2 separate regions of the Homo sapiens genome follow, and region 2 is linked to region 1. Evidence: fine-mapped expression QTL. Tissue or cell type: tibial artery. Region 1 holds a variant in brackets; the other region holds the start of a gene. All regions are shown on one strand. Distances are between the middles of the regions.

What was found. PIP is the estimated chance that this variant, and not a neighbour inherited with it, causes the effect.
Region 2: it holds the start of FRA10AC1, and the variant in region 1 is fine-mapped to the expression of FRA10AC1 in tibial artery (GTEx, PIP above 0.99). The same link has a PIP of 0.9 or more in skeletal muscle.

Annotation. Positions count from the first base shown.
Region 1 is chr10:93,728,157-93,730,920 of GRCh38, forward strand. No RefSeq gene overlaps it. Among named protein-coding and RNA genes, the nearest start is that of FRA10AC1, 27 kb to the left of the region's middle. The variant A/G (reference allele first, on the strand shown) is at 1,522.
Region 2 is chr10:93,701,094-93,703,857 of GRCh38, forward strand. FRA10AC1 (FRA10A associated CGG repeat 1) reads right to left here and starts at 1,499. Exons shown (of 14, transcript NM_145246.5): 1 at 1,282-1,499. RefSeq lists an enhancer at 1,488-1,787.

The sequences.
Region 1 (2,764 bases):
CACCTGTGGGGTGCCGACCTTCCAGTTTACACACACAGAGCCACTTTGTGCCTAAGGTACATCTATAGTGCCTAGGTGGCTGGATCAACAGATGCAGCATCCACACCCTGAAATTTTCCTAGAACCCTTTTCTTGACTCCACTCTCCGCTGGAGAACCTAGAAACCCTTAGCTTTAGTTTAAGGTGGTAACATTTGAGGAGTTTGGGAAGGGGAAGAGATGAGCATACTAGGAAAGCAAACAGTGTGACCAAAGGCAGAGTAGCAGGAAACTCAGGGTCAGCCACAAGAAACCTTCACTTGTCTGGACACAGAATCCATGCAGGGTGGGGAGCTGGGAGACGTAGAAAGGCAGGGCTATTTACAGATTTTATATTGAGGGCCAAGTGGTGTACAGAGGAGTCAAGATTTAAAGCGGCAATCATTCTTTCCTCACAACGTGTACAAAATGCTTTGAAAGTTCCCCTTTCTACCACATTTTAGACTTGGTGCAGAGAACTAGAACCCACTGTCACCACTTCAGTGTTCTGCAGAGTGGCGGTGGCCCTAGGGTGCCCTACTGAGCTACAGTGGCACATAGGAGTAGACAGTCTTCCAAATCATTAGGGCAGCATCTCCCAGGCTGGCCTATTGCATAACAAGGAAGAATTCTATGATAGGAACAAGCTGAAAGTGTTATAGGAGTGATATGGTTTTGATCTGTGTCCCCACCAAATCTCATGTCATATTGTAATCCCCATTGTTGGAGGTGGTGCCTGATGGGAGGTGATTGGATCATGGTGGCAGAATTCTCATGAATGGGTTAGCAGCATCTCCTCGGTCCTGTTCTTGTGATAGCAGGTGAGTGAGTTATCATGAGATCTGGTTGTTTAAAAGCATGTAGCACCTCTCTCTTCTCTTTCTTGGTCCTGTTCCTGCCATGTTAGAAGCCTGCTCCCACTTTGCATTCTGCCATGAGTAAAAGCTCCATGAGGCCTTCCCTGAAGCAGATGCTGCCATGCTTCTTGTATAGCCTTCAGAACTGTGAGCCAATTTAACCTCTTTTCTTTATAAATTACCCAGTGTCAGGTTTTTCTTTATAGCAGTGTGAGAAATGACTAATACAAGGGGGCCTTGAAAATACACTCAAGATAGTCTATGACAATCAGAGAACTGATAGTGATCATATCATGAGAATTGACTTCCCAAAATCCTATCTATGTTGATTGATAAGGAGTATGTTCATTCACTGATCTGGCCAAGGAGAATGTGACTGGCCACGATTGGCTTAGACTGATCTTGTCATTGGATTTCAACCCTGGCCATAAAATAGAACCACCTGAGTAGCTAAAGAAAATTGCCGACATCTAGGTCCACACCAGTGATTCTAGACTCATTGGGGCTGAGGGAACAATGAGTACAAAGGCCGGGAGTCAAGAGAACATGGTGAGTTTATGTGGATATTGATAGTTCTACATGGCCTGAACACAGCGTAGGGAAATAAATTCATCACCTTAGGCCTCAGGTGACACACTGGGACTACC[A/G]CTGCTCTGTGAGACAAGGAAGTGGTGGGATAAGATCTAATGCTTTGCACCTAAGTCTAAAATGTGGTAGGTTCCCCTGTAGCCATATCAAAGTAGGTGCTGTTAAACAAGGGAATCTTAAATAAATCTTTGAGAGAGTCTGCAGTGGTTAAGGGTGCATGCTTGCGTGCAGCAAAAGATGAGCTCAGTTCTATCATCTAACACCTGGGGAGCAAGCCAGGGGACCAGACCTGAACCTTTGCGGGGAATCAAGTACTTAAAGAGGTATCACCTTTAGATTACCTTGTCCTCACCCTGTTCCCACTATTGTCTTTCCATCGTAGTGTTGAAAACTATAATGTCTACATATTTCACTGTAATGTCCACAAATTCAAAAAAAAAATGCCCAGGTTTGTAGAACGTGCTCCGTAAATGTGACAGTTTCTGCTCTACTTGCAAAGCTCAATAACTTGTAGTCAGGTTCTTGGGCTCTTCCAAGAACTTACCATGCCAAAAACCTATCCTGATTCTACCATTTACTTGCTATGTGCTATTGGGCAAGTTGCTTTACCTGTCTAAAACTCAGCTTCATCTGTAATATGGGGGTAATGATAAGTACTTAGGTCAGAGACTATGTGTTCCTCACACTTTCTTTTTCCTCCTGGTCATAGTCGTTGTGCACTTTTCCCAACCTTTCTTGCAGCTAGGCAGGCCATGTGATTGCATTCTATCCAATGGAATGTTGGCAGGAGTGATGCATGCTATATCCAGGCCTAGATCTTAAGAACCCTCCCATGGGGTCCCTGCCATGTGAACTTGCTCCCTCTACCCTCATCTGCCAGTGAGATGCAGAAGATCCAGTGAAGAACTTCAAGGTCCTGGGGAGGGTGAGTTTATTCAGGAAGGAACCTGAATCCCTCCCCCGCCTTCTGCCCATACTGTGCCATGGGTAAAAATCAGCCTTTAAAATATCAAGCCACTGAGATTTGAGGGTGTTTGTTATGGCTGTTAGCCTCACCTGACTAATTCAGCAATTCTGAGAATCAAACGAGAACATTTATTTATAATCACGGTGTCAGGCACAGAGTAAATATTTAGTAAGTAACAGCTATTTATCATCATATGATGTCAGCCCTGCTTTAGGTATGTAGACTTTTCCCTTCCCATATCTTCAAATGCTATTTCTTCCCTTTGATCCAGTGACCAAGACAACTCTGGATGTCCAGTGCTGCTTTATCTTTAAGCCTAATCACAACATTAATGC
Region 2 (2,764 bases), 27 kb before region 1:
CCAAAATGCTGGGACTTCATTTTAGAACTGAAATTCTTAGAAATGCTGGAAGACCTCAGTTGCCACTCAATTGTATTGGAAGAAGCTCCTAGTTCCAGCTTTGCACTGAATTTGGAACACACACTAAGAAGGAAGGATGGACTATTTGATGTCATACATAACTAATTTACATGGCTGGAAGGAACAGTCCAGGTTAAATGATATATCAAATTGTTAAAACTAATATAACGACAGCAAGTGCAGCTGGAAAAAGAGGAAAGAACTCTCTAAACTTCATTGCATTGGATCTAGGGTAAACGACATGTTTCTAGTCCTGGCTACCTTGAATAAGTCATTTCATCTCCCTGGACTTCATCTATTAAATAAGATAGCTACATGAAATAATCTTTAAGTTGTTTAAATCTTTAAATAACCTTTAAAGTCTGTAATTCCATTTTCAAACATAGGTGTGTGGGTATATACCTCTCTTCTCTGCCCCACTAAAATCCTAGATAGGAAGATGCTAGTTAAGGTTGGAGATGAAGGTTTGAAAGCCCGAGTTCCAACTCTACCCTCCCTTACATCTGTTATTGCCTTACACACCTGGATTTTACACCCTTTTTTAGGTCAACTCCAGCTGTCTTACCACATCTGTTCAAGCCATATTGTCCTCTCACTCTTTGTCCTATGTCCTCACGTTCTTTACATCTTGATGGGGGACAGCTGTAGTGTGTTTAGAGATATATTCTAGGATCAGCCTACTAGATTTCACTGCTTGGCTCTGCACTTTCCATTTGTCTTTCTTTGGGCCTGTTCCTTAACCTCTCCAAGCCTCAGTGTCCTCATTTATAAAAAGAGGCTAGTAAGATGGCTGACCTCATACGAATGGAGATTAAAAGAGTTGCCTCATCTAAAGGGTTTTAACGGTGTCTTGTACAGTGAAACCCAGTAAATGTTACATCATCATCATCATCTTTTCCCTCGCCCCAGGACACGACTTCCTATTCTTGCTCCCACTCTCCCATTTCTTTATTCGCTGGCCGCTCCATCCGACCCATACCTATCTTAACTCACTGGTTGAACTAAAAAGCTCTCACTCACTTCAGGCCTACGAATCAACTGACAAGAGCGGGGAGAAACTCAAAAACGGAGATGCCAGGTGTCTCCAGAATCTGTCATCCAAAAAAAAAAAAACCAAACCAAAACAAAAAAAAACCCGACGATCAGCTAGTACTATATGAAAAACAAGTTTTGAGGTCCTTCTCCCTGATGCCAAATATACCCACAGCCCTCCTCACACACCCTTTCCCTTCCTCCCTGTGTGCCAAGTTCGCCCCCGGAGTCGTCGTTTCCTTCTTTCCCGGCAGCTGCAGCGACGACCCACGGCCTGAGAGAGCCGCTGCAGCACAGGTCCCGTGCGCCCTGCCGCACAGCCTCGCCACAACCACCACCGCCGCCGCCGCCGCCGCCGCCGCCCGCAACCCGCCTCTCCCTACGGGTCCCGACTGGGCACCACTTCCGGTCCGACACGGCCACGTGTTACATCTAAATGGCACCGTCCCCCGAGTGCGCCGACCTTGTGCTACAGCCAGAACAGCTCCGGGAAACAAGGGCAGCGGGAGAAACGGCCCGGAAAGGGACGAAGAGGCTTCCAGCTTTCGCCAAGTCGCGGCTCCCAGTTTTTCCCTGGGCCTCCTTCCTTTCCCCTCTAGGGAATCCGGCATCTAGTACCGCTGGCACTGCTTGCTGCTTAGCCCACGCCTCTCATTTGAAAATATATTTTGTTTTACCGTGCCTATCACCTGCCGTCCTCTCTCTAGTAACCTTAGTAACGCCTCCTCGGAGGATCCTCTCAGAGCAGCTCATCAGCGCTTCAGATCAGCCTCTCCCTCCTTCCCCCAGTAAAACAGTTCTCATAATTAGAACAAAAATATCTCTCCATCGTTTCGCCACCCACACAATAGATACCATTCCAAAAGCAGTGCTGATGGCAGAAGAGCTCATCGAATTTGTGAGGAAAGAAAGAATAGGAGGAGAGATTTCTCAGGGTTGAGGATTCTCTGCCGACAAGCGACCTGGCACATGCGAAAAGGGATCCAAAATAGAATCTTAAAAAGAAGAAGAAAAAAGGCAGGAAAAGTTGGATTATTTTAAGCGCCACTAGGTTCTTCCTGTGCTTTGCGTTTTCTACATCACGACGCCCCACTCTTTCCACTCTAGTTGTTTGGTTCATGTCTTGTCTCTCGCTGGCATTAGCAGCTATTCATTTTTTGCTTCCTCCTCAGTACCCAAAACGGTGCCTTGGAAATCACAAGTGCTAATTAAATATTTGTTGAATTGAACTGGCACGCTTCTGGCGTTTACAGTGGGCCCTTTTTAGAGAAAACCTTGGCACTTAATGCACAGTCATTTTACATCTTTTGCCCTAAACAGTAGATAACGATATCCTTATCAGTTCAAGTCTCTAACCCTGACAATAAATTATAGATACATTCTGCTTTATCCATTGCACTGAATGTGATCTTAAAAGGCTATAAGATAAATTAAATTATTGTAAATTAACTTATTCCAAAATGCAATCAGATTATACTTCAATAAAAACTTTTACTAAAAAAAGTGAAAGCAATAGGAAGCCTTACAATTTGACGTTATAGTATATGGAATTATTTTGTCAAGCAGTTTCTTTTTTGGTAAATATATTAAATATATAATTATTTTATTGTTAATAAAACTAAACAGACCTATACCTCATATCCAATTTCCTTTCTATCCATATTTGACATTT